Linked DNA regions of Homo sapiens. The protein of the gene in region 4 interacts with the protein of the main gene of each other region in a pairwise test. Each region holds a gene or a part of one and is shown on either strand. Other genes may lie near its edges.

Region 1 (4,125 bases), on a different chromosome or scaffold from region 4:
AGGTGATAGTTTTCTGCTGCATTTGTTTTTTTGGTGTAGTTCATTTTGATAAGAGACAATGTTTTATTTAGAAATAAATATTGACTCTTCTGTAAGCTTTTATTTATTATTAAATAAGTTTTCAGTTAAGAATGAAGTTATGGCAATTCTTCATTGGCCAATTCAATTGCATTAAGCTACGCTGTTGAGTGCAGGTGTGGTGGCTTATGCCTGTAAACAGCCCAGCACTTTGGGAGGCTGAGGTGGGAGGATGGCTTGAGCCCAGGAATTTGAGACCAGCCTTAGCAACATACTGAGACTCTGTCTTTACAAAATATTAAAATATATATATATAGTATCACCTTTGCTTATGGAAGGTTGCATAGAATTATTAGATGAGGTTCACGTTTGAATTTTTTTCTTCTTTATAAACTCAAAGATAGTACACACATAGTAGCAGAAAGACACAGGTTTGAGCCATGATATGTTGGCCAAACCAGTTTGTCTGGTTATCTTTAGGTCCATATAGTACGTATCTGCTAACATATACTAATGCAGTCTGAAATACGGAATGAGTTTTATTTTTCTTGTATTTGGATCAAATTTGCAACCTTAGATTTACTAGTACTGGGGTATACCAATTGAATGCCCATTTTGTTTTTGTACTGTGTTCCCAACCTTAGTTTTTCTTCGATTTTTATTCATTGGAATTGTTGCTCTTTTATGAAATACTAAATGAAATATGAAGGGAAAGTGGAAAGTAAAAAGCACTGAGCTGAGACTTAGGAGAGTTGGGTTCTAGACTTACCTTTCTGTTCATTTGTTACCTTGGGCAAGTCATTTCTCTGGGTTTGTTTTCTTATCAATAAAGTGAGGGGCTGGATGAGATGGTTTCCAGTATACCCTCCAAATTTTAAGTGCATCGATTCTATGATTTTAATATAGAGGGATTACTTTTTATTGCTATAGAATAATATTTATTAATCCCTAGATTGTTGGTTTACTGGGCTCTTAACCTTGGATTGCAACTGATGAGTAGCTATACTGTACCCAACTTTGGTTAGCTATCTTGAGAATACATACTATATGTAAAAAAGATGAATAGTTTAATACAGGCTCATTGACTGTTTTAGAAGGTATTTAGAATAAGCGTGCTCTTGATAGCTGGCCAGCAGCCCCACTTAAAGAAGCAAATTCAATACTGTTACAAAAATTTTTGGGAGAAGGTCATAGACTATAATAAATTGAAATTCTTTTTACCCAGATGAAATTACAGAAGCCAAATCAGGGACTGCTACTCCACAGAGATCGGGATCAGTTAGCAACTATCGATCTTGCCAAAGGAGTGATTCAGATGCTGAGGCTCAAGGAAAATCCTCAGAAGTTTCTCTTACCTCATCTGTGACCTCACTTGACTCTTCTCCTGTTGACCTAACTCCAAGACCTGGAAGTCACACAATAGAATTTTTTGAGATGTGTGCAAATCTAATTAAAATTCTTGCACAATAAACAGAAAACTTTGCTTATTTCTTTTGCAGCAATAAGCATGCATAATAAGTCACAGCCAAATGCTTCCATTTGTAATCAAGTTATACATAATTATAACCGAGGGCTGGCGTTTTGGAATGCAATTTGCACAGGGATTGGAACATGATTTATAGTTAAAAGCCTAATATGCAGAAATGAATTAAGATCATTTTGTTGTTCATTGTGCAGTATGTATATAGCATAATATACACAGTGAATTATAGGTCTCAGGCTTACTTGATTTTTGGCTATTTTATATTTAGTGTACACAGGGCTTTGAAATATTAATTTACATAAAGGCCTTCATATATTATTACGTGTTATATATTACGTGTTATAAATTTATTCAATAAATATTTGCCTAGAATTCCCAAGACCTTTATAGGTGATTTTGTTTTCTGGGCTCCTTAACTTCATAAATAGCTAGTATCTTCCAGCAGTAGTAACAGTCTGGATAACTTCTTCCATATCCCTCCCTCTTTGTTTTTTTGAGACAGTGTCACTTTGTCACCCAGGCTGGAGTGCAATGGTGTGGTCTCGGCTCACTGCAACCTCCACCTCCCGGGTTCAAGTGATTCTCCCGCCTCAGCTTCCTGAGTAGCTGGAACTACAGGCGTGTGCCACCACACCCGGCTAATTTTTCGTATTTTTAGTGTAGACGGGGTTTCACTATGTTGCCCAGGCTGGTCTCGAACTCCTGACCGCGTGATCCACCACCTCAGCTTCCCAAAGTGGTGGGATTACAGGCGTGAGCCACCGCACCCGGCCTCCATATCCCCCTTTTAAAATTCTGTAGTGTATGGTAAGTCATATCAGATATCAGACCTAATTTAAATTTCATTTTAGCTTTACAAGTCCAAAAACACAGAATTTATATATTCAGATACTCTAGCACTAATTTTAGTCTTAAAATATTCCCACGATATTCTGTACACAAAATGTTCTTTTTGTTACAAGAGCTGAGTTGCATATACTGTAGATAAATCATATTATTTTTGCCAATTTCACAAATTCCTCTGGCCCATCATGTCAGTCATTATTGAGTATATGCACACATTGCTACTTATTTGATTATGTATCTTTTAAATTGATTCAGTGCATAGAAAACTATCTCTTACAAACTTTAAGTGCTCTGATATGACTTCCCCCCCAAATTTTATTATGAACATTTTTAAAAACAGAAAAATTGAAAAACTGTTTGGTAAGCACATGTATATCTACCATTTAGATTCAGCAGTTGTTAATGTTTTGTCATTTGTTTTCTCTATACCTATATATGTATAGATACAGCTAGTTATGCATATATATGCATATATGTGTTTGTTTGTGTATGTATATATGCTTTTTTCCCCCTGAACCATTTGGATGTTACAGACATACTTATCACCGTGAAAATACTTCAAGTATCTCCTACAGATAATGACATTCTCCTAAAAATCCGTAATACCATTGTAAAAGTAATAATTCCCCAATATCATCTAATCAAGCCATATTTAAATTTCTGAAGTTAACTCCAAATTTCTTTATAGCTGATTATTTCAAACTAGGATCCAATTAAAGTTTACATATGACACTTGGTTATAACTCTTTAGTTGGATATAACATTATTATTATTTTGATAAAATATGGAACAAATCAATTCTATTAATAAGTGGTCACATTTGTTTTGGGCTTAAATTACTTTTTAAAGATACTGGATTTTCCTAAGATTTCTGATTTACACTGATATTTTTTTTTGTCATTCTTAATTGCATCACACAATAGATGTAAATGAAGATGTAGTCACCTCAGATAAAATTGGTATCGTGTATGATAATATTGTATCATTTATATTTGCCTTATGTTAACTTTAAGAAATTGATTTTTTTGTATTAATCATTTTCCCATTGCAACAGAGCTATATTTTTTCTATTTTAAGAATCATATTTTAGGATTATTTTTGGCAAATACAGTGAGCACTTATGTAACCAGATGATAATGAACTCAAATGTCATGATAGCTTGCATAAATGGTGACTCTAGTAGATTTGACTCAAGCACTTCTAGAATCATGCACTGAATTCAAAAGAAAAATCTTGCTGCTTTTTGTCCAGGGCTTGTTCTATTCAACTTCTAATTTGAAAGCTGTACAAAGTAATAGAAGTTCCATTTAAATATGAGTTCAAAACTGTATTTACTTTTTATGTGGCCCTCTCTTTAGGGGATTCTAATTTTACTTAGGGTCTCTAAGTGCAGCATAATGTTCCTGATGTTAACAGAAGACTGTATTTTTAAAGTTACAAATTTGTATATGGAATTAAGTAATGGCGCTATATACGCTGTTGTGGGGAGGGGGGAAGAAAAGGAGGAACCAATTAAATAGGACCTTTTAAAAATTGTTAATTTTGTAAACTTTGCTTCTCTTATAAGTTATTGTGATTCATTTTAGTTACTGTGTTTTATTTTGAAAATATTTAAATATTGCACTTCTATAAATAGTATGATAAATGCACAGACAATTGCAGTAAATTCTTTTTTAAGCTAGGATATTTGAAATGACAACCTTTGGTTAAGTGTGTCAAGGTTGCAACAGAATTTTCACAATTTTTTTGTTGTTTGCAAATTGTTACTAATATTGAAG
Region 2 (4,125 bases), on a different chromosome or scaffold from region 4:
CAGATCACAATTTACAATTCCGCATTTTGTAATTGTTAAGTGCAGTCTGGCTTCCCCAAAGACCTCAAGCTCATTCTGCCCAGGATTAAATCCAAGAGCCTTCTTAGCCCAGTTTCTGGCATGCAGGAAGCATACAATAATGGAAGAAATGAATGAATGAACAAATGAATTAATGAAACCCACCTTACCTGCCTCTCCACTAGCTACTGCAAGTTCAGGTTGAAAAATATCTTCTTTTCAGAGCAGTTGTTACTGAAAGAAAATGAGAGGAACCCTCTGGTTTAGACAGCTAGAAGTAGAAAGGAGAAAGAGAGAGAAAAAAAATTCTTATCTTCAGTTAGAGAAATGTTTCCACAGGTCCTTGATAAACTAGGGAAAAAGACCCCCAGGGCTTTCTGATAGCAGGCGGGTGTCCTTGATAGCGTGACGGGTGGGGCAGGCGGAACTTTGGCATCAGGGCGCAGGGATGGATTCTAACGGTTTCTTTGCTGGTTGAAGAGGCTGCTTCCTGCCGACTTCTTTTTTTTTTCTTCTTATTCTTCACTTACCAGCCCAGCTTGTGAATGTGAAGGAGTTGTCCCTTTTCCAAATGAACAGGACTGGTGTATCAGGTGGCCTTGCCATTGTATGCACCTGCCGGTCTGAGAAAGCAAGTGTTCTGTCTGTATCTGCAACTGTTTGTGTCTCACGCTTTGCAAATCTCTTATCCCTCTGAGTCTCAGAAATCCCCCATGAGTGAAAAAGGGCAGGTAGCCTGGTGCCCATTTGATAGGAGAGGAAATTAGGCCAAAGCCCTTTCAAATCTCAAACATGCCTAAACTAGAGAACTGGATGACCCTTGTTCCTTAGACTCGGGCATTCTTGCTCACAGGAATGTCTTTTGAAAATTTATTTTTCAAGAGGAAGAGCTTCATGAGGCAAAAGCCAACACGCAGACACCGTATTACCTAGCGGCATTTATTGGATTTGTCTCTTGAGTGATTCAAACAAAAGATTACGGTTATAAATAGATAGACCTAATTGTGGCAAACAATGCCTACCTTTTATTGAGCACTTATTATGTGCCAGGCATTTTAAATACTTGATCTTATTCAATCCTGATAAGAAACCTCCTGAGATCAGTAATATTATTCCAATTTTACAGAGGAGGAAAGTGAGAGAGAAATTTCAATAACTTTCCCAGGGTCATACAGCTGCATAAATGTAGGAGACGGAATTTAGACCTAGGTCTTCTGACTATGCCCTCACCTCATTCACTATGCCAGTGTTTCCCAAATTTCCTACGTTTGCATGTTAGGAATACATATTCTTAGGCCCACACCCAATCTCCCAGATCAAGGGAGAAACCTCAGAAGGCCTTTCCCTGGATACCTGATCTAAAAAATAGCCTCCTCCCCAGGCACTAACACACCGTTATTTAATTTTCATCATTATATTTGTCACTACTTGATATTTTCTTATTTGTGTATTTGCATATTGTCTTTCTTCTCCACTAAGGGATGAGTTCCATAAGTGCAGATACAAGATGTCCAACGTTTTAACTTCTAGAAACTGACCAAGGGGGATGGTACCTACGAAGTACTCAAAACATATTTATTAGATAAGTTAGTAGACACTGTCCAAAGTATTGTGTTAAGAAGAATTGTGAGTCTGGACCCAGGTTCTGGAGAGAAGATGAGAACACTGGTGTGTGTCCTGAGGTTTCAGGATGGGAAAGTGTTGGCACATAGGCCATGTATTTGCCATCCCAGAGAAAGAAACTCAGTCTCCCCAAAATTAAGAGGAAGATGACACAGAAAGTCAGTAGGAGAGCCAGGTAAAATGCAATCACTTCTTTCCAAGACCTTTATCTCTTACTTGGAAGTCAAAATGAACACATTTGTAATGGAGAAGAAATCCATGGTCAACAGTGAGGTGCTGATCAAAACTGCAATCAGATTGGATTAGGGAGAGATCAGAGTGGATGGACATCAGCATGGAAGGCTTTCTGGAGGAAGCAGAAAATCGAGTTGCCCCTTGATGAGCGATTATCTGGAAACTTCCTTTGTTGTCAGGCTTGTACTTTGAGCTATACATAGAGTGTTTTTTAGGCCCTTGCAACACCCTAATGAAGTAAGTATTGTAATCATAATTTTATGGGTGATGAAACTGAGTCACAGAAAGCCTACAGAACTTGCTCCAGCTCACAGGGCTACTAAGGACTGAGTAGGAATTAACAGCCGGTGATTTCAATAATGGTTTTCTTAACAGAGCAGGTGTGTCTGGTAGGAAACAGCCCAAGTAAGGGTCTGGGTATGGGGTCAGTTGGAGGAGCTGGAGGTGCAGTTCACAGGTAGTAATGAAGTCAGCTGGTTGCAGAATTGGACCATAACAATATTCCAGTGAAAGGAACCAGATCTGCTGTTCTCTCCCATTTAAAAGCCTTGGATGCCAAAACGCACCACACCTGACCCGGTGATCACAGGCAATTCAAAGGTGTATTACTTATGCAGGCATAGGCAGCGAGGGAAGCCACTGGTTGAGGGCCCCACTGAGAAGAGGACTCCCTGACTTCTGGGGAGGAGAAAGAGCCTGGTGCTGGGGACCTACGTAGATATAGGACAGGGGCCCACCTGTTGAATAATGCCGAGAGGAGGTAGTGGGGGAAGATTAATTTTGAGTGATCTGCTCCATTGGGGGTCAGGCTGGGGGTGGTCAATCAAAAAGAGTAAGGGTGAGTTTTCTTGCATATGATTACTAGGTGCTGCAGAGGTGAGTGGGGCTGAGTGGGTGGTGAGGGGTGGGGTGCCCTGATGGTTTCTGCCCCAGTGGGTGTTAACTATTTGGACAAATGACATTTTGCTGGGAGCAACTTTTTGCACTCAACTCAATTTCTTCAAAATTCACTCCCTAACATTTGGTTCACCATCCAAAGAGCTAATATACTTGTATATAGGCTGTACCAATTTTACATAGCCAGTGCAGTATGTAAGTCTACTTGTGGGCAGGAGGGCTCCTAAAACAAGGTCACCCCAGGCTACAGGGGACATCCAAGTCCTAGGGAGTTCAGAGTACCACATGTAGAATTTGGTTTCTGTTTGGTGGTACATCCATTGGGCTATTTGGATTACTTTGCCTTGCAATATTTATCCACGTCCAGCAGGATACACTATGCCCTCTGAGAGCATATACTCCTTCTGGGAAGCTGGCATATCATCTGGAGCTAGTCTCTTATCTGCCACCCTGGCAGTTAGGGGTTTTTGCCCTTCAGTGAAAGCTTCCAGTGCTGCTGTTTTTTGTGTTACGTGGGCTGATAGGACCTCGGATCTTTCTCTGAAGTATCTGCTAGTTTTCCTGGTGTGATCATATTGTAAGACCTTAGTCCCACTCTTCTGGCCCCAAGTCATGCTTATACCCAGGACAATGGGTAGGAAGACTGCCCATCACCTCTGACTGGGGACTGTGACCAGCAGGGTTAAATTGCAGAACAGTCAGAAAAATGTGAAGGGGGTTGTCAGACTTAGCAGTGTGCAGGTGAGTTTAGGTATTTGGGACGTCAGGAAGAAGTTATCTAGGAGTGGAACAGGTGAAGCAGGTTCCCTCTGGGGCTTCCAATCTCTTGTGTTCCTTTAATATCTGGGGTGGGCCATGACACTAGTTGTGCTGTGTGGGCCTAGGAAGATACAAGCATAGGCATGTATTTATACATTTGGATAGATGTATGATCTGGACTCATGAGCCGGGGACCAGACTGGATAACATCTGAGCCAACATAGGACAGGGCAAGACCTAGGAGCCTAGACCAGAAGTGTTTGGTGTTGGTGGTTTTGTGGTGCAAATAAGGGAGTGGCCTGCTCATGGGGGCAGATAGGAGGCCCAACATTGCATGAGGTCCAGCCACTGGGATGTGGCTTTATCTCTGTGTACATACAAGTTAGCCCGGAGATAGCCTTAGGCAGTAGAATTGCTTTGGGAGGCCCAGGAAGGGAAGTTCCAGCCACAATGGCAATGAGGTTTATTGTGCCCAATGGGGAGGAAGTGAGAGGAGAGAGTTATAACTTTGGTGGCCTGTGTGGTGGCCACCCTTTTCAGGTATGTGACAAATGCTGATTGAGGGATCCCCCAAGGGAAGCTGTTTGTGCTCCA
Region 3 (4,125 bases), on a different chromosome or scaffold from region 4:
ATATTGCACTGGACATATTTTATAAAAATTATTGTGTGCCAGAAATTCAAATTTAACTGGGCATCCTGTATTTTCATTAGTTAAATCTGGCACCCCATCCTTGCCTGGGAATAGCACCTCATTTTTATCTTTCTCGTACCACAATTATTTCATGTCCTTCTCACACAACAATTATTTGTTTACTAGACCCTGAGCACCTTGAAGGCAGGGATTATGTTTATTTTCCTCTGAATCTCTACATCTGTACACAATGCCTAGAACAAATGTTTTTGAATCAAATAGAACAATTCTCAGGCGACATCTGCAAAGTCTGGTTGAGGCCAGCAGCCCTCTCTTTGGCCTCAAGTTAACAAATGTTCTGTGCTTAGAGGAAGAGTCCCATAGTGAGTTCTATAATCTCACGATCATCTTAACAGGGCCTCATCCAGAACCTACCATAGAAAAAAAAATCTGTCTGAGAAATAACGCACACAATACCTTGCAGATATCACTCCATTGCCCAGGACCATTATCATTGATGGCTCTAACTTTAAACACGTATTCTGTGTTGGGGGTCAGGTTGTGCAGCTCCAGATTTTGCTGCATTATGTCCCGAATTTGTCCACAGAGCTCCATTTGTACGTTGTTAGGAGGAGAAGTAATGACTTCATAGAATTCCATCTCAAAAGAGTCCACGTCTTCTGCTGGACATGTCCAGTAAACCTATGGAAGAAATGAACATACTGGTGTGGTACTAGTATACATCATTCAGCTTTCTTTCCCTTAAAGATTTGTGATGTTGACTATCTGTGGGGTGAGTTTAAGCTGACCCCATCCCCTGTAGCTACCGAAGACTTTTAATTAGACCATGCACAAGTCTTGGAAGACTGTGTGATGAGGCCTGGCATGATGGTTGTAATGAGTTTCACAAACAGAAGGTTTCCGTTCTGTTACTGTCAGTCGACATGGAGGTGACAATTGTCCTCCTGCTTGAAAAATACCGAAAAATAGAGGGGAAGAAAATAAACATCACTCATAATATCACAATTCAGTTAATTCATTATTATTTCTTTGCAATTTCAGAACACACACACACATACAAACATATATATATATATATATATATATATATATATATATATATATATATATATATATACATAAAAACTTGGATTAAGTAGCTTTGATTTCTATTTTCTTTTACTTATGTTGTATGTTTTCCTAAATCATTAAAAATTCAGTAAACTACCATCTTTGAAATTTCTCCCAAAATAATTTAATCCTTCTATTGTTGAACATTTATGTTGTTTCTAATTTTATACTCTAATAAATAAATGCTGTAATAAATACTGTTGGGCATAAATATTTGTCTGAATTTTTAATAATTTTCTTGGAAGAGATTCCTAGAACTAAAACTGAGTTTAAAAAATCTCTATGATATTAACAATACATATTGAAAAGGTACAACACTAAGTTTCAGAATATTTTCTATGCTAAAATCCTAAAGATTTGAGAGTGATGTTAACATAAACTTAATCTTCTGCATTGCTAAGCACTATGATTCCTGTATGAAGTCCATTCCATTATCCTAAAATATGAATCGATGATATTTTAAAATCAAATATCACTGTCTGGCAGTAGGTTTAGGTGTCCTCTTTCGACAGCAAATGACTTGACTGAGTTGTTTTGCGTAGGTCTCTTTTTTGAGCTCATCAGGGATGACTAATAGGTGGCATGGGGTGACTATTTTCCATGCCCAGGTATAGAGCAGATACTAGCAATCCTCTGACTCCAGAGCAAGATCCTGCCAACTTCTCAAGAGGTCTCAGTTGGTCAAGGAGATGAGACCCAGTGCTATACTTGAGGTAATAAGCATACACGATAGGCCTTGCTGATCTAGTATCAATTGGAAATGTAGTTCAGCTGCTCAGTTATGGGCATTGCTTATGTGAAGGGCAGAAACACTTCATCATGTCGATAGCTCATGGAGTGTTCTAACTTGCAAAGTATGGGTTGTTCTTTGTGTTAATTATAGACAATAAAACATAGATTGTGATGCGTCAGGAGAATGGAAAAGTAAATCTTGGTCTGTATCTGGCCTTCATTTGTTAGATCCTTAATACTAAAGTGTAGTCTGTAGACAGCAGCATTGGCAGTACCTGGAAGTTTGTGAGAACCAGAATCTCAGGCCCCTTTGAAACCTACTAAAATAGAATCTGCATTTTAACAAGATCCCCAGGTGCACATCAATGTTTGAGAACTCAAGGATCTGAAAGTCTTTGGGAGTGTTCTCAGATTATGGGAGACAAAATATGAGCTCTGCCACATGGGAGCAGGCCATGGGTTGACTGTAGGAAAAATCCAAGAGGAGGAAAGAGGCACTCTAATAGAATATTTAGTTGCATGTTAATTTTTTTCCTCCATAAACCTTAATAAAGTGTTCTACAAACAATTCCGTGTGGGTTCAGCTAGATTTGAAAGGTATGTTAAAGAAAAGCCCATTTGTTCATGTTGTCCATGTTAGGTCAAGAGGGTCAAAGGGAAGTCATGTCCCTTGAGGCCAGGCAATGGCACTTACAGAGGTCTGTGACAGACCCCACTCTTCACTCTCTCCCTTCAAGGCGGGTTGAATCTCAGAAGAGTTGAAATTTCATTGGGGATGATCCTCCCAATTTTTCCAAATCATAGAGATTCTGGATATTTGCTTTAGGAAAGGCAGCAATTTAACGGAAACAGCTGATAGGTAATGGAGCCTGCATTTCTAAGTACAATTTCTGTGCTGTCTCTATTACAGGCTTTCCTTTGGGAAACATTACACTGCCAAGTAGTGTCTTCAAATTACTTTGGTTCCCAAATTGGGTTCTCTTTCAGTTGAGAAGCTGCCTTTGCAGTGGAGGTAGGGCTTTCAGATATATTTACGATTATGAGTTAAATATATTGACTGTTTGGTTTAAGCTAATTTTGGGTTACTTAAGATTCCAGGAGCTTATCCCTTTTGAATGGGATGACCACAAAGAGTCTAGAGGAGCAGATATGAGTGACCAGATCCTAGAGGTCAAAGAGGTAAGTGCAACCTTTCCTGACTACTCACTTCTACTCTGTGCCCCACACCCTCCCACTTCCCCACTGGGCCCAGAACCTTTCTTACCTTGGCAGCTCTTGGGTACACCAGAGTCTGGTAGATAACAATTGGGCCTGGGGTCTTCACAGAGCCATCGTTGAATGAGTACCAGTTGTGGAAGCTGCTGCTGTTCTGTACAGACTGGCTGTCTGCTCCAGCACTCCAGTAGGTGTAGAGGCCGTCTGTGGGTTTGGCGGGGGTGGCTGACTGGGCTCTCCCACAGGCCTCCAGACCCACCTTGGCCTTCTTGTCAGTGTTGCTGAAGGACAACATGGAGGAGCTTCGCTGGTATATGTGCTGGTTGCCGAGGCTGTGGGTGCTGAAAGTGACCTTCCTGGCAATCATTGTTTCTGAGTGCACGGGGTAGGGGGAGGGCAGGGAGTCCCCTGAGGAGCGTACCTTCTTGGGCCCTGTGGGGAAGAGCTCATGGATGGCACTGGAAAGCTCAACAAAGTCCAAGGGCACGTAGTTTATTGAGTGCAGCCGGAGCTGTGGGTCAGGCCTGTAGGTGGTCTGGATGCCGTCCTCGATCTGGTCCACCAGGATCTTGGCTGACTGCAGGAATGCCACCTGGCCAGTCTCCTTCAGGGCTTCCTTGGAGTAGGCGATCAGACCATCCATCTCGTTCACTTTCATGGTTGTAACATACACATATTTTTCAATTTCCTTCTGCCTGGACACTTCTAGATTCTCTATCTGCTCCATGATGATCTTCTCTTTCTCCTGAAGAATGCTGCGCAACTTGAGAAAGCCATTTCTGATCTCTTTTCGCTTTGCCTCCTTGTCAGCTTTAAAGCTGTTTTTTAAGATGTTGAATTCCATTAGGTCATTATCAATTTCATATCGGACTGCAAAAATGCCAAGTTAGTTACTTTTAAAATTTTCATCTCCCCAGGTGTCAAAGTCAGTAGCAAACTAGAACAAATTACCCTAGGCTCCAAGGAGGTGAATGAAGAGGGAGGGAAGGCACTTGTAGTTGGGCTGAAACAGGCTGGAATAGGTTTATGAAATGAATTTGGTCCTCC
Region 4 (4,125 bases):
GGTCTCTGAGGCGGAGCAGACAGGGGAATGGCCCAGGATCCGGCTCATGGTGATTCTAGCCCCTGCCAATACTCAAAAGCTACTTGCCAGTAACTCTTCCAAGGAAGCACAGCTTCTCTTCTGAACATTTTAAAGCCTATTAGAATACTACCAATCTGTTAGAAAAATTATTGGCCGGGCGCGGTGGCTCATGCCTGTATGTAATCCCAGCACTTTGGGAGGCAGAGGTGGGTGGATCATGAGGTCAAGAGATCGAAACCATCCTGTCCAACATGGTGAAACCCTGTCTCTACTAAAAATACAAAAATTAGTTGGGCGTGGTGGTGCATGCCTGTACTTCCAGCTACTCAGGAGGCTGAGGCAGGAGAATCACTTGAACCCGGGAGGCAGAGGTTGCAGTGAGCTGAGATGTCACCACAGCACTCTAGCCTGGCGACAGAGTGAGACTCCATCTCAAAAAAAAAAAAAAGAAAGAAAAATGAATAATTATTGCACATTTCTCAGATTGAACAGAACTCTCTAACCACAAAATGAAAATAAAAAATTCGGCTGGGCACAGTGGCTCATGTCTGTAATCCCAACACTTTGTGAGGCCAAGGTGGGATGACTGTTTAAGCCCAGGAGTTCGAGACCAGCCTGGGCAACAAGACCCTGCCTCTAAAAAACCAAAAAACAAAACAACAAACTCATTTTACCTGAATTTTCGGTATATGTTTTACAAGTAAGTAGGTCAAATAATAAATGAAATGTGGATGCTACCTAGGCATTCCAACATTACATCTTATTTCTCTTGCTATAATGCTTCAAAAATCTTTCCCTACAAAAATTAAAGAGAAAAGGGAGCTAGAAAAATGGATCTTTTAAAACTAGAATATATATTTAAGAGGTCATTGTTCATCCACTTAAACATGTGAATTATGAAGAATTATACAGGATACTACCCACTGGCTGAGTAATGGGGGTGAGGAGGGTTTAATCACTGAAGAAAGATCTCCCTGACTTACCACATACTTTTGCTAACTGAAATCTGATGATGAGACGTTAAGGTTGGACCAAAAACTGAAGATGCTGCAGTAGTAATGGACACTATGCTAACCTTGAAGAAGTATTAGTGAATGCTAAGAACTGACTAGAAGTGACAGAGTTTGAGATAAGAGGTTAACTACATATAAGAGGTCAAGCAGGCCTCAAAATGGAGAATGTAAAAGATATTCGGGAATTTGAGACCAGCCTGACCAACATGGAGAAACCCCGTCTCTACTAAAAATACAAAATTGGCCGTGGGTGGTGGTGCATGCCTGTAATCCCAGCTACTCTGGAGGCTGAGGCAGGAGAATTGCTTGAACCCGAGAGGCAGAGATTGCAGTGAGGTGAGATGGTGCCACTGGACTCCAGCCTGGGCAACAAGAGCAAAACTCTCTCTCAAAAAGGCCAGACGCAGTGGCTGACGCCTGTAATCCTAGCACTTTGGGAGGCTGAGGCAGGCGGATCACGAGGTCAGGAGATTGAGACCATCCTGGCTAACATGGTAAAACCCCGTCTCTACTAAAATACAAAAAAAAAAAAAAAAAAAAAATTAGCCGGGCATGGTGGCGGCTGCCTATAGTCCCAGCTACTCAGGAGGTTGAGGCAGAGGAATCACTTGAACTCGGGAGGCAGAGGTTGCAGCGAGTCGAGATTGTGCCACTGCGCTCCAGCCTGGCAACAGAGCAAGACTCCGTCTCTTAAAAAAAAAAAAAAAAAAAAAATTTAGGTAATTTTTTTTTTTAAATGTTAAGGAGAAAAAAAGGTAAGTGCTGGGATGGGCTTATCAGCTGGACTGATTTGTGATACCACAAAATAAATAATCCTCAAATACAGGTTTAAAAAACAAGTTCTGGTATCTTGCTGTTAACTAGCATTTTCCATCAACATTATTTTCAGATTTTTATCACTAATGTGAACTTGCTGAAACCTACGATTTTAACTTATACGTAAAGCAATTAAGTAAAATGAACTTTTCACCATTATGTGATTTTTTTTTCAGATCTCTGCATATATTACTCCCATTCTCTGGAATGCTTTCTCCATGTTTTTTTTTTTAACCTCAAAAATACTTATTTTCTAAGAAGCAGTGAAAATGTCACTTTCTCTGTGATGCCTTGATTGCCATAACTATTCTGTTCTGCACATTGTACCACCTTATTACAGCACCTAACACATGTAATAATCACTTCTCCACGTCTGTCTTTCCCAAAAAGAGCTTCTTGAGGGAAAAAGTCAAAATCTTTTTAGCCTTTCCTTTCCAGAGACTAGAACATAAAGAACACCCAATAAATTTATATTTGTTTCCCAAAGTTAACAGAAGTTTCACTCTGTGAAAAGTAGAGTACATAATACTAAAACAACTGAAAGGATATTTGACATAGTGGTTATGATTGTGAGCTCTGGAGTGAGAAACTTGGATTCAAATCCTAGCACTGTCATGTGTGATACTGGGCTACTAAATATTATGCCTTAGTTTCCTTATCTATAAAATGGGGATATTTATAGTATCTAAATCATCAAATTATAATATATGAAATAATCTCATATGTTATGAGGAATATTATAAAATGAGACAATGCTTATAAAGCACTTCTTAACAGTGCTTGACATGTATTAATTCCCCGGAAAATCATCTCCAGCATTTTTCAGGAAATGTCTGAAAACACATAGGAACAGTCTTTTCAGTTGTCACAGTAATTGAAAGTAGCATAGCAGTTGAGTGTCCTATTCAAAATACCAATAGTGTCCCCATTGAGAATGCCTACCACATATTTTAATTATTCTTATTAGCAATCTGAAGACTGTATTAGAGAGGAAAGAGCCACTTACAGTTCCTGTACTATCATCTACTCTTTCTCTAGGTTTCTTCTTTTGGGGAGAAAGAAGAGAAATCATTTCCTTTTTCATTTGTTGAAGAACCTTCTTAAGTTCTGCATTTTCCATTAGGATTTGTTTCTGACGATATTCATAATCATTCAAGAGAATTTTATACATTTCATCTTCATTCCTGAGAAAGAAACTGTCAGTATGAAAATGCAGGATAGAAGGAAGTCTGATTACATTTATCAATTTAAACTGGACTTTACCTGGCTTCAGTTTTACCAGTCCTCCAGGAGCCTCTTTTTCCATCAGCTCTCCCGACATAATTCAAAATGTCCATAGCTACAAACATGAACACATAAAATTAATTCTTACCATACATGCTTAAGCATCTAAAACTCTAATGCATTCTATACACGTAAGTGGTGAAAGTGAACCTGGTATATAGGTTAGGATTTGGGCTTAAACAGCCTAATTTTCGAGTTTCTAGTTCCACCACTTGTAAGCAATGAGATCTCGGCACATTATTTAACTGCTTAGCCTGTTTCTTCTTGGACACTGGGAATAACAAAAGTATCTACCAAAGAGTTGTTGAGAAGACAAAGAAATAACTATTAAAGCACCCAACACAGTAGAGTGAACACAGTATCTGGCGCACAGTAAGTACTTAATAAATGTTACCTTATCATTATTAATTTCATTATCAGGGTTGCCTGATAATGGCCCACAGGCTGGCTGCCTGATTTTGTAAATAAAGCTTTATGGGAACACAGCCACATCTACTTGTTTATATACTGCCTATGGCTACTTTTCTTGTTACAATGGCAGAGATAAGTAGGTGCAACAAATAAGTTGTAGATCCCATAAAGCTGAAAATGTTTACTATATGGATCTATACAGAAAAAGTTTGCCATGTCCTGTTAACATTAACATCATCATTTTCATCAAAGGAGTCAAAGCCCCTGATAGTAGTAATATCTTCTGCTGCAGGTGGACATGGAAACATTTGGCGTAAAAAGGAAAAAGAGTAAATTATTATAATCTTAGAGTTAATAAAATCATTATGAAACTGTCACTTCCGATTGGACCAGGAAACAGCCAGACCGCTATAATGGAAGAGCTCTGTTTCCAGAACTAAATCCTTAATAAACTTCTCTGTGTTACACTTTATACTTTCAGCATTTCATCCTGCTTTTTAATTTTTTTCCTTCATGAATGAATATGAGGCTAACTAAACTTAAAAACCAATGATTCTCCAAATGAGTAAGATTAACTCAG
Region 5 (4,125 bases), on a different chromosome or scaffold from region 4:
AAAACTTTTAGTCTTTCACTGTTGAATATGATGTTACTTGTAGGTTTTCTGTAGATTCCCTTTATCGAGTTGAGGAAATTCTCTTATATTCATAGTGTGTTGAGTGTTTTTTATCATGAAAGGGTGTTGATTTTTTTTTTAAAGATAGGGTCTTGTTCTGTCACCCAGGCTGGAGGGCAGTGGCATGATCATGGCTCACTGCAACCTCGAATTCCTGGGCTCAGGGGATCCTCCTACTTCATCCTCCTGAGTAGGTGAGACTACAGGCATGAGCCACCATGCCCAGCTAATTTTTTAATTTTTCTGTAGAGGTAGGGTCCTGCTTTGCTGCCCAGGCTGGTCTTAAACTCCAGGGCTCAAGCAATCCTGCCTCAGCCTCCCAAAGTGCTGAGATTACAGGGGTGAGTCACTGCACTGCACCCAGCTGTGTGGGATTTTTCAAATGCTTTTTTCCTTTAGATGATCATGTGTGGTTTTTTTCCTTTCATTTTGTTAATGTGGTATATTGATTTTCGTATGTTGAACCATCCTTGAATTCCTCAGATAAAGCACGCATATTCATGGCGTATTATCTCTTTATTATTATTATTTTTGTAGAGATGAGATTTCACTCTGTTGCCCAAGCTGGTCTCAAACTCCTGGGCTAAAGTGATCCTCCTGCCTCAGCCTCCGAAAGCGCTGGGATTATAGGCATGAGCCACTTGGCCCTATCTTTTTTCTTTTTCTTTTTTTTTTTTTTTGAGACAGAGTCTCACTCTGTCGCCGGGCTGGAGTGAGTGGCGCGATCTCGGCTCACTGCAACCTCCATCTCCCGGGTTCAAGCAATTCTCCTGCCTCAGCCTCCTGAGTAGCTGGGACTACAGGTGCCCGCCACTATGCCCAGCTAATTTTTTGTGTTTTTAGTTGAGACGGTGTTTTGCCATGTTGGACAGGCTGGTCTTGCACTCCTGACCTCGTGATTCACCCACCTTGGCCTCCCGAAGTGCTGGGATTACAGGCGTGAGCCACCGCAGCGAGCCTTATCTTTTTAACAGTTAAAAGTTTAAGGCCTTATCATGTAATAACATTGCTGGATTTGATTTGCTGCTGTTTTGTTGAGAATATTTGCATCTGTATTGATAAGGGATATTGGTCTGTAGTTTTCTTTTCTTGGCATGTCTTTGTATAGCTTTGATGCCAGCATAATATTGGCCTCATAGAATGAGTTAGGAAGTATTCTTTATATTATGGGAAGAGGTAAAAAGGGATTGGTGTTAATTCTTCTTCAAATGTTTGATAGAATTCAACAGTGAAGTGATATATACAATCATATATAGAGAGAGAGAGAGAGAGAGAGAGATGGACTTTTCTTTTGTTGGAAGTTTATTGACTATTGATTCAATTTCCTTATTGAAATTGACTTTTCTTTTTGGAAGCTAAAACGTATAACTGTAGTGAAAGTTTCTGAACTTTTCTTTCATTGGAAGTTTTTTGACTACTGATTCTTTATTTGTTATAGGTCTATTCAGATTTTCTGTTTCTTCTTGAGTCAGTTTGGTCTCGCTCTGTCGCCCAGGCTGGAGTGCAGTGGTGCCATCTTGGCTCACTGCAACTTCTACCTCCCGAGTTCAAGTGATTCTCCCACCTCAGCCTCCCCAGTATCTCGGACTACAGGCGCACGCCAGCATACCTGGCTAATTTTTGTATTTTTAGTAGGAACAGCATTTCACCATGTTGGCCAGGCTGGTCTCGAACTCCTGACCTCAGGTGATCCACCCGCCTCGGCCTCACAAAGTGCTGGGACTACAGACATAAGCCACCGCGTCCAGCCTTGAGTCAGTTTAGATAGTTTGCATGCATGTTTCTAGGAATTTGTCCATTTTGTTTATGTTATCTAATCTGTTACCATACAATTGTTCATAGTATCCTTTTATAGCCCTAGTTATTTCTGTAAGATCAGTAGTAATAGCTCCACTTTCTCTCTTGGTTTTAGCAATTTGAGTCATCTCTTTTCTTCCTCTTTTTTTTTTTTTGAGATGGAGTCTCACTGTGTCACCCAGGCTGGAGTGCAGTGGCATGATCTTGGCTCACTGCAACCCCTGCCTCCCAGGTTCAAGCAATTCTGCCTTAGCCTCCTGAGTAGCTGGGATTACAGGTGTGAGCCACCACACCCAGCTAGTTTTGTTTTGTTTTTTTGTTTTTGAGACGGAGTCTGTTTCTGTCTCCCAGGCTGGAGTGCAGTGGTGCAATCTCACTCATTGCAACCTCCGACTCCCAGATTCCAGCAATTCTCCTGCCTCAGCCTCCTGAGTAGCTGGAACTATAGGCGTGCACCACCACGCCTGGCTGATTTTTATATTTTTAGTAGAGATGGGATTTCACCATGTTGGCCAGGCTGGTCTTGGACTCCCTACCTGAGGTGATCCGCCCACCTTGGCCTCCCAAAGTGCTGGGATTATAGGCATGAGCCACCATGCCCAGCCAGTTTTTGTATTTTTAGTAGAGATGGGGTTTCTCCCTGTCGGCCAGGCTGGTCTTGAAATCCTGACCTCAGGTTATCCACCAGCCTTGGCCTCCCAAAGTGCTAGGATTACAGGCATGAGCCACCACGCATGGCCTGTCTTTTCTTCTTGGTCATTTTCGCTAAAGGTTTGTCAATTTTGTTGATCTTTTTTGTTGCTGATCTCTATTGTTTTCCCATTCTGTTTCATTTATTTCCATTTTAACCTTTGTTTCCTTTTTTCTGCTGGTTTGGGTTTAATTTGCTCTTTTTTTCCCCTAATTTTTCAAGGTATACAGTTAAGTTATTGATTTGAGATCTCTTTTTTCTTTTCTTTTTTTTTTTTTTTTTTTTTTTTTGGTTGCTGTTGAGATGGAGTCTCCCTCTGTCACCCAGACTGGAGTGCAGTGGCATGATCTCAGCTCACTGCAGCCTCCGCCGCCCAGGCGATTCTCCTGCCTCAGCCTCCTGAGTAGACGTTTCCCGGCCAAGGTGTTTCTTTTTGAATGTAAGCATTTACAGCTACAGATTTCCCTCTAAACACTGCTTTCACTGCATTCCATAAGATTGTTTTTTGTTGTTGTTTTGTTGTTTGAGACACAGTCTCACTCTGTTGCCGTTTGGAGAGCAGCGATGCGATCATAGCTCTGTAGCCTTGAGCTCCTGGACTCAATCAGTCCTCCTGCCTCAGCCTCCCAAGTAGCTGGGACTACAGGTGTACACCACTGCACCTAACTAATTTCTTTTATAAGTTTTTGCAGAGGCCAGGCACAGTGGCTCACACCTGTAATCCCAGCACTTTGGGAGGCCAAGGTGGGTGGATCACCTAAGGTCAGGAGTTCGAGACCAGCCTGGCCGACAGGGAGAAACCCCATCTCTACTAAAAATACAAAAATTAGCTGGGCGTGGTGGCAGGTGCCTGTAATCCCAGCTACTCAGGAGGCTGAGGCAGGAGAATCGCTTGAACCTGGGAGGCAGAGGTTGCAGTGAGCCAGGATCACACCATTGCACTCCAGCCTGGGTAACAAAAGCAAAACTCCATCTCAAGAAAAGAAAAAAAAAAGTTTTTGCAGAGACAGGGTATCACTTTGTTGCCCAGGCTGGTCTCAAACTCCTGACTTGAAGGAGTCCTACTGCCTCGGCCTCCCAAAGTGCTGAGATTATGGGCAAGAGCCACCGCACCCTGCCACTTGGCTGTTTTGTTCTGTTGTATTTCCATTTTCATTGATCTCAAGACATCCTAATCTCCCTTTTGTTTTTTTGTTCGACTTACTCGTTATTCAAGAGTGTCTTTATTTCTGCATATTTGTAAATTTTCCAAAAAAGTTTTTCTTTCTTTCTTTTTTTTTTGAGAAAGGGTCTTGCTCTGTCGCCCAGGCTGGAGAATGGTGGTGCACAATCTTGCCTCACTGCAACCTCTGCCTCCCGGGTTCAAGTGATCCTCCCACCTCAGCCTTCCCAGTAGCTGGGATTACAGGCACACACCACCACACCTGGCTAATTTTTGTATTTTAGTCTTAACGTGCTGGTCAGACTGGTCTCGAATTCCTGACCTCAGGTGATCTGCCCGCCTTGGCCTCCCAAAGCACTGGGATTACAGGCGTGAAACACCATGCCCAGCCCCCAATTTTTTTTTTTTAATAGAG
Region 6 (4,125 bases), on a different chromosome or scaffold from region 4:
CATGTTAACTTAATTTCATTTAAAATTACATTTGTAGAAGTCACACAACAGAAAGATACCATGCGGTTGAACAGTGTGCCTGTACTTGAACAAGTGAGAGAAGATACATACTCCAAAAAGGAGATTCAGTCTAGTGTTACTTCAGTTATTCACATAGTGTCTACAGGGCAGAATCTCTTCCAAAGCAATTTTCTGTTCACTAATCTACAGGCACTAATGGAACTGTAATTAAAACCCCAAATATAAAGATGATTATTTAAACACAACTAAGCTCTAGCCAAAGACAGTAGAGCACCAATGCCGGGCGGGTTACTGACGGCATGCAGGGCCTGGAGGTACATTTTCTGGCAGTTAACCAGCCTTCTGCTGTAGTAGACAAACTGCCTTTTGTGAATGTACAAATTTGCTAAATTAATAGAGAACTACATTGTTATTTCCTTACATTACAAAGAACTCTTCCCATACTGTTTTTCCCATGTACTACTGCTGTCTTAGACTAAACTGTGCCACCTTCCAACAGTTTCCAAATTACTATTTCAGGTCGAGATAATGAAGAAATAAGACCAAATCTGATTATCTGACTGATGACAAATTTGAGCACCAACTACAGCAAAATTCAGGGTCAAGGTAGCTTGCAAGTCAGTTCTCTTGATTTGGCAATTACCTTCCACTATTTTCATCTGTATTGAAGCTGAGATCTTCAGGGCCTATTTGTTCACCATCAGGAAAACTGGAATGTGTATCTATGATTAAAAAATAAATAAAAAATTTAAAATTTAAAAGCATATAACAAGGGCAGTATTTTCCTTCCCAAGTCTTTAAATAATCTTACCAAATGTGTTATTTAAGTGATAAAGATGTGCTGGGTTGTGAACAAATCTCTGTCTTCAGAGAATTTGTGATCTGAGTCAGGTATAAGCAAACACAAAGGAAAAATAAAGGAGAAAAAAACAAAATGTGTAATAGACACCCACAATTAAAAGATGACAGGAATTGTCTCATTTTGTCCTCCTGGGGACAATCTGGGGACAGCTTAAAAAGGGAACAAGAAGCAATGGTGTATATTCTCAAGATTCAAGACCTTATAAACATAAAACATATTTCAAAGCCAATTAAACTACGCATTCAAGTATCACTACAAAAACCCACCAGCACTCCAAATAACTTGCACAAAATTTGGATGCTTATTTTAGAAGCAGAGGAAGTTACTAAAGATGCCTTAATACTTACAAATCATCAAATGCTTGGTTCTGTATTGAAAAAGATACCAGAGCACCAGGAAAATATGCAAAATATAAAGCAGAAAATGGCATAGGCTTAACAATGTTGTCACTCCAGGATATCTTGCAGAGGAATGTTCAGATTGATTATTAAGGCCTCTGGGTAACTTTAAATGTGTATTTCTCTAACTTGACAGTATATCCTTTTACTGATTAATCTGTATTCCAGAAAACTGCTTGACAGCAGAATACTTATGGTATATCCACATGATAGAATATTAGGTTGCCATAAAAAATGAAGTTTATGAAATTTTAAATAACATACAAATATATTTAAGTGAAAAAAGCAGAATAAAAAACTATTTATAAAATATTTAGGTAGGGCTGGCATGGTAGCTCACACCTGTAACCCCAGTACTTTGGGAGGCCAAGGTGGGCAGATCACCTGAGGTCAGGAGTTCGAGACCAGGCTGGCCAACATGGTGAAACCCTGTCTCTACTAAAAATTACAAAAACTAGCTGGATGTGGTGGCACATGCCTGTAGTCCCAGCTATTCAGGAGGCTGAGGTGGGAGAATTGCTTGAACCCAGGAGGCAGAAGTTGCAGTGAGCTGAGATTGTGCCACTGCACTTCAGCTTGGGAGACAGAGCAAGACTCTGTCTAAAAAAAAAAGAAGAAGAAATGCAATGCAAATAAGACAGAAGAAAACAAGGGAAAATATTAATAGTAGGTTTCTCTTGTTTTTTTCCTAATAACTTTTTTGGGGGTAGGAGGGAATAAAAATTATTTCATAATCTGCATGTATTTCTAAGTTATTTTTATTTTAAAAGGTTAAAGTTATCTTACAGTAGGCTAGAAAAGGAAAAAAAACCCAAACATCTGAAATCTCCCCAGGGATTGGCAATCATTTCCTATGAAGGGTAAATATTTAGGCATTGTAGGCCACAAATGGACTCTCTTGAAAATTCTTCTTTGGGCTGGGCACGGTGGCTCACGCCTGTAATACCAGGACTTTGGGAGGCCAAGGCAGGTGGATCACGAGGTCAAGAGTTCGAGACCAGCCTGGCCAACATGGTGAAACTCCATCTCTACTAAAAATACAAAAACATTAGCCAGGCGTGGTGGTGTATACCTGTAATCCCAGCTACTCAGGAGGCTGAGGCAGGAGAATCGCTTGAACCCAGGAGGCGGAGGTTGCAGTGAGCCAAGATCACGCCACAGCACTCCATCCTGGGTGACAGAACAAGACTCCATCTCGGGGCAAAAAAAAAAAAAAAGAAAAAAAAAACCCACAAAGAAAATTCTTCTTTGTTTCTTTTGCTTGGTTTTTAAAGACTCTTTACAAAGTAAAAACCATTCTCAGGTCACAGACTATACAAAAGCAGGTTGTGGACCCCGTCTCTGCCCAGTAAGTAGCACTCATTAGGTGCAACCAAGCCAAATATTACTGGCTGTGTTTTTTTAGTACTCACCATAATAGTTAACCAAAGAATGTTGTCTCACAAATGACAATAATTAAAAAAAAAAAAAAAGAAGTAGAAGCAGAAGAAGCAAAAGCAGTAGAGCGGAAAAAGTAGAAGTAGCAGCAGCAGAAGAAGAAGAAAGAGAAGCGGCAGCGGTGGTTTTAGTAATCTGTGTAAAATGACATCATGTGCTGCACCTTCATCCGGGGGCTGTGTCATGACCATGAAGGAGTCGTGAAACCCGCCCACACTGGTATGCTCTTCCTGCTCCTCATTCTCAGTGTCACATTCAATGTCACTGTCGCTACTCATTCCTGGCAGGAAGGAAGGAGAACATGTTTCTGAAAAGAAACCACTGTAAGTAAAAGGAAACAGAAATCTCCGTATCTGCTAAACTGAGATTCCTATTGAATTTTACATGGAATGCCAAGAATTCAACAAACTAAACACTAACAAAACAAAGACAAAAGTAACCGCACAAACCTCGATTCTCTTTAGCTATTTAGAGTGGTTTTATTTCTGTTCTCAAAGTTTAAAATTGCCCTTTCCATAGTACCTGAAAGTTATTATTTGAAACCAGCATTAATTTTATTATACTGATAATACTTTTTTCCAAATCAAACACTGTTTTTTTTTCAGTCACAAGAGATAACAGGAACTCTTTTAATCCTGATTCATTATAGACATAATTATATTCCCTAGCCTAAAACATAAATATAAATGTGTTATACAAATCCACATGGTGTATGAATATTAGAAATTCTGGCAATTCTAATAATAGTTTGTATTCTAATTGGGCATCTAATTTTTTTGTGTATGTCGGTTGATTTGTATTTATTTTTATTTTTTGAGAGACAGGGTCTCGCTCTGTCACCCTAGGCTGGGCTGCAGTGGCCTGATCATAGCTCACTGCAGCCTCAAACTCCTAAGCTCAAGGGATACTTCCGCCTTAGCCTCCCAAGTAGATAGGTCCACAGGTACATGACACCATGCCCTGCTAATTTAAAAATTTTTTGGAGGGACAGGGTCTTGCTATAATATGTTGCCCAGGCTGGTCTTGAAATCCTGGGCTTGAGAAGAGATCCTCCCACTTTAGCCTCTTACAGTGCTGGGATTACAGGTCACTGTGCCTGGCCACATCAGTTGATTTTTAAAAGAATAATTCTATAAAAAGTATTTGTTTCAGCAAGATAGCAATCAAGAAAACCTGAAAATCTTTCTGCTACAAATCCTTACAAATAGCAAGATAAAATATAAATGTAAAACATTATTTTAATGAACAAGCACATTAAAAGGCAGAAAGGAAATCCACAGTGTCAGAAACAAAGAAAGATAAGGAACTTTCATTAGTGGGTCAGGGACCACAGTTGCCCTGGAGAGCTTCCTGTGAGGATTTTTAAACACTGCCTTGGGATAGAAAAATGAACCCCCCACAGAAAGG
Region 7 (4,125 bases), on a different chromosome or scaffold from region 4:
TTATCCCACTATTAATTAGTAATTTTTAAAAAATTTTTCATTATAAAAACTTTCAAAGATATTTCAAAAGTAGATGGGAAGATATTGTAATGAGCACACATTGATCCTCCCCGTAATTATCTGCCCAAGGCTAACTGTGCTTCCCCTGGATCCCGACCCAACTCCCCTTCTTCTAAATTATTGTGAGGCAACTGTAGACATAGTATCATGTCACTCTGTATCATCATCAAATGTGCAGTCTGTATTCACAGTTCTTCTGCCTCATTTTTTAAAAACTTAGTTTATCTGCATCATGATCCAAATAAGGTTCACACTGATCAACATGGCTCTTAAATCCCTTCTCATCACTCCTTTATCTCTTTTCTCTTGCAGTTTATTTTTGAAGAAGCTGGGTCACTTGACTGTGGAGTCTGTCCAAGTCTGAAGTTTTATTTTTTTTGCATCCCCAAGGTGGTGTTTAACAGACTCATTTGGGTTTACAATTTGGGAGTTGAATCCGGAGGCTTTACTTCTAGTTGGCTTGCTTTTGCCAAGACTACTTTTTAGGAAGTGCTATGTTCTTCCTTTGGAAAGCACATAAGGTCTGGCTGTCTCTTTTTTTAGTGATGTTGCTGTTTGGTCAATAAGTTAAGGTGGAATCAGCCTGATTTGTTCTTCGCTTTTAAAACAAAACAAAACAAAAAACAATAACAACAACAAAAAACACCCTTTCTCCTTTGTCACTAATAAGGAATATGCAGAGTGAGACTTGAGATTCTGTGAATAGCCTCCCTGATAACATCTTGCTCAACAGTTTCAGCGTCCATTGACAATTCTTTTTTTTTATATTTTTTATTTTAATAAAGACAGGGTCTATGTTACCCAGGCTGGTCTCAAATTCCTTGCCTCAAGTGATCCTCTCACCTCAGCCTCCCAAAGTGCTGGGATTACAGGCATGAGCCAGGGCACCCTTGAATGAATTATTACATTAGGGACTGCAAAAGAGAAATTTTCAGATTTTCTCTCTCCTTCACAAAGTAGCTGGCATTCTTGTATAATATAGTCTTTCTCTCACTCTCCCCCTTTTCTTCTACCATGTATATCCATGGATTTCTAAAAATTATTATTAAATGTGTTATAATCCATACTCTCATAATGCTGACTGTCCCAAATTTGGCCATTGGGAGCTTCTTGGAAAGTCATCCTCTGTCTTTCTGACATGGCACTAAGGGTCTTTCAACACCTCCTTGCTTTCTGACACAAGCATGGCAAGCTAACCTTGTATGTTTCCTGTCCCAGACCTCAAATCAGCCATTTCTCCAAGGAGCCCTGAAACCTTTCACTGGGAAATGGCATTTAAAAACCAAGCTCGGAGAACACAATGCATCTCGGTTAATTAAGTATCACTGCTTGTAGGCTCTTTGGACAGAGCAAGGATATTTTAAATAGGTAAATCACAAGTTCATGGTGACACCCTGAATTCAAATCCAACACGGAGGCTTCTTCCTCTGCTCCCTCATCTCTCCCTCATCTCACATTAGCATCGCCGTTCCACCACAAGGAAAACCCTCGATTCCCAAAATTTTTAATATACTTATCCATGTGGTGCTCTATCTACAATAAACACAAAATAGCGCCAAACTGACGCCACCAATATACTACCAACAACAAACAGTGCAGTTCAAGATTTCTTTGCAGTTCTTTCTAGCCCTGGAACATAGTCTCACTATACACAGGATCTTTTCCTTCAGCTAACCAGATGATCATTGTACATGGTTATGCAAAAATGTTTCACATGTACTTCCCATTTCATCATGCAGTATATTAAAAAGATGTCCTTAACAGTTGAGACTTAATAATTTTTACTGTTTCATCAGAACATTCTTATGTGAAACTGACATTTTCTTTTTAAATTGAGTGCATGGAGGTGAATGCAATGACTACTAATACAGTTTGTTGCTACCACCTGGATTCATGCTAAAGATCAGCAGTTTTCTCCACTTTGGCTTTTGCACAATCAGTGCAAATATCAACACAGCAAAAAGGGCAAATAATCTTAGTATTATTATGACATTACATTCGCCCTCATGGACCCGTGAAAGGGTCTCAGGTCCTCCATCTCACACTTTGACCACTGCACTAGCATATACAGAGTTGTGTATTCAAAAGCTACTTAGCTTCGTGGAATTCTCTGTGTGGGTGTGTTGACTTAATTTTACATTTAGTCAGGTTCCATTTAGGAAACTGGTAATCCTTAATCTATTTACTTTCATCCTTATTTTAATGCTTCTTGATTAAAAATAATTAGAAAATAATGGTTCAATCAAAGGAAGTGTAACATAAATACAGAAATGGGATACCCCAAGTTCAGTGATGCTGAAGGGTTAATACAAACACTTTCCCACCATCTAATAAAATCACTGCAAGGGACAAACAAGAACAACACTTACAGAAGTAGAGTTCCACTAACAATTTTTTTACCAGCCACACGTAGTGCAGCACTAGCAAAGCCTAACTCTGACATCATTCTTGGGGAAAATATTGAAACTTTTCTCAAGGAGGTATGTTAAACAATGTTTGCCACCTTATCTTTTCAAAGACACCTTTTGTTGTTGTTTAGCACTCAGAACTAATACGCAAGGAAAACACCCAGACTAGAGAAACACAGACAATACTTATGAAAGTGTGCCTATGTTGTAGCTACATAATAGCCACTGAGTTCAGTCCCTGCAGAGGCACTAAGAGGGACAGTGTGTCAATTTCAGTCTTTTTCTTTTGGCCTTCTCACCATTCTACAAAATTCAAACAGCCCTGCTGGCCCAGAAGCTTCTTTTAACATAAATGGTTTAAAGGAGGAGGAGCACCCCATTTATGGATTTAATGGAAATACATACAAGGAATGGAGAGGGTTGGTGATAGGAATAAACTGCTTCCAGCAGCAACTGCATTAGTCCCTGTGCTATTGTGTTCAGCCCCACCACTGCTGCGAGCCTGTGTCTGACTAGCTAATTCCTCCTTCTGCATCTTTGACTTCTGCATCTGCTCCAGAGGTACCATTAGGGGGCTATAATTACTGATTAGGAACAAAAGGAAAGAGCACACTTTCAAAAAAACGGTGTGCATTCCTGGGGTACGCAGGGCTCTGATCCTTCAAAAGGTATTAAAAGAGTTTCAGATAGTCACAAGCTTCAAGATTTGCCAAAAAAAAAAAAAAAACTGTAAAATATTCAAGTGTCCTCAATGCAACGAACTGATTTGTCTAACAGATGCAACAAAGGCAGCAAGATTTATATGAGAAGGACCTGATAGAAAGGATACACAGGGACCTCTTCTAATGAATGACCAGTTCCACAACACAGTGATACATTAGGCCCAAGGATCTGTCACTTTCCTGTTCCATTCAGCAGCGATCCACTGGGTAGCTGCATAGTCTAGACAAAAATGCAAGACCTTTTTTTTTTTTTTTCAAAGTTTGTGTTCCATTCTATTACAATAAAGCCAATCATAAGACTCACCAAAAAGAAAACTACAACAAGTAACTGAAAACAACAAAAATACAAAATTTCTCAATCAATGGATATTTACATTAGTTGAACTTCTGAATTAGGATAACTACTATCTAGTGAACCAAAAAAAAAAGGGAAAATTCTCATCTGAAAGTGAAAAGACCGTTTCATTATTTATAATACTTGTTAAAAATCGACAACTTCATGCTATTCCTTTCATGTACAGTTTCTGTTTGTCTACTCTGTCTTTATTGGAATTAACAGTGTGAATATCATCAAAAGTCATATGGGGGACCAGGATTCAATTCTATGAGAACACAGGTACTAGAATGGAATCCACAGGCACCTAACATAGAGCCCAGCCTAAAGCAGATGATCAACAAACCCTTGCTGAAAGCATTTACATGCATCTGACTTTGTAGCCATTTTCTTAAGAAAGGTGTATTTTACTAGGAAAATACTAAGTCAAAAAGGTACACTCTGTGACATTCCTACATGAGGGGAATTAAAAATTTTCACCCAGAATCCTAAGACATCTTTCTACAAAGCAGTCATATTCACAGCTCCCCTTTCAGAAAGGACTGCAGGTTTCCCTTATAAGCCATACAGATTACCTGAGAGCTTTTCTCTGAAATACATT

Evidence for each region.
Region 1: the proteins of SSX2IP (region 4) and PRKAA1 interact in binary tests that used the Homo sapiens proteins (3 or more experiments, as listed by UniProt).
Region 2: the proteins of SSX2IP (region 4) and LMO2 interact in binary tests that used the Homo sapiens proteins (3 or more experiments, as listed by UniProt).
Region 3: the proteins of SSX2IP (region 4) and TRIM42 interact in binary tests that used the Homo sapiens proteins (3 or more experiments, as listed by UniProt).
Region 5: the proteins of SSX2IP (region 4) and ZGPAT interact in binary tests that used the Homo sapiens proteins (3 or more experiments, as listed by UniProt).
Region 6: the proteins of SSX2IP (region 4) and TRIM37 interact in binary tests that used the Homo sapiens proteins (3 or more experiments, as listed by UniProt).
Region 7: the proteins of SSX2IP (region 4) and CDCA7L interact in binary tests that used the Homo sapiens proteins (3 or more experiments, as listed by UniProt).

The regions. Positions count from the first base shown.
Region 1 is NC_000005.10:40,760,141-40,764,265, reverse strand, and holds part of PRKAA1 (5'-AMP-activated protein kinase catalytic subunit alpha-1), read left to right. Parts: exon of another isoform or gene 1-1,243; coding exon 1,244-1,488; 3' UTR 1,489-4,125. UniProt on the Homo sapiens protein: Catalytic subunit of AMP-activated protein kinase (AMPK), an energy sensor protein kinase that plays a key role in regulating cellular energy metabolism.
Region 2 is NC_000011.10:33,881,636-33,885,760, forward strand, and holds part of LMO2 (rhombotin-2), read right to left. Parts: intron 642-4,125; exon of another isoform or gene 549-641; intron 305-548; exon of another isoform or gene 253-304; 5' UTR 189-252; exon of another isoform or gene 184-188; intron 1-183. UniProt on the Homo sapiens protein: Acts with TAL1/SCL to regulate red blood cell development. Also acts with LDB1 to maintain erythroid precursors in an immature state.
Region 3 is NC_000003.12:140,687,545-140,691,669, reverse strand, and holds part of TRIM42 (tripartite motif-containing protein 42), read right to left. Parts: intron 3,949-4,125; coding exon 3,128-3,948; intron 703-3,127; coding exon 478-702; intron 1-477.
Region 4 is NC_000001.11:84,659,342-84,663,466, forward strand, and holds part of SSX2IP (afadin- and alpha-actinin-binding protein), read right to left. Parts: intron 3,190-4,125; coding exon 3,114-3,189; intron 3,035-3,113; coding exon 2,857-3,034; intron 1-2,856. UniProt on the Homo sapiens protein: Belongs to an adhesion system, which plays a role in the organization of homotypic, interneuronal and heterotypic cell-cell adherens junctions (AJs).
Region 5 is NC_000020.11:63,714,520-63,718,644, forward strand, and holds part of ZGPAT (zinc finger CCCH-type with G patch domain-containing protein), read left to right. Parts: intron 1-4,125. UniProt on the Homo sapiens protein: Transcription repressor that specifically binds the 5'-GGAG[GA]A[GA]A-3' consensus sequence. Represses transcription by recruiting the chromatin multiprotein complex NuRD to target promoters.
Region 6 is NC_000017.11:58,998,717-59,002,841, forward strand, and holds part of TRIM37 (E3 ubiquitin-protein ligase TRIM37), read right to left. Parts: intron 3,040-4,125; exon of another isoform or gene 3,026-3,039; coding exon of another isoform or gene 2,999-3,025; coding exon 2,882-2,998; intron 744-2,881; coding exon 661-743; 3' UTR 1-660. UniProt on the Homo sapiens protein: E3 ubiquitin-protein ligase required to prevent centriole reduplication. Probably acts by ubiquitinating positive regulators of centriole reduplication.
Region 7 is NC_000007.14:21,918,164-21,922,288, forward strand, and holds part of CDCA7L (cell division cycle-associated 7-like protein), read right to left. Parts: intron 1-4,125. UniProt on the Homo sapiens protein: Plays a role in transcriptional regulation as a repressor that inhibits monoamine oxidase A (MAOA) activity and gene expression by binding to the promoter.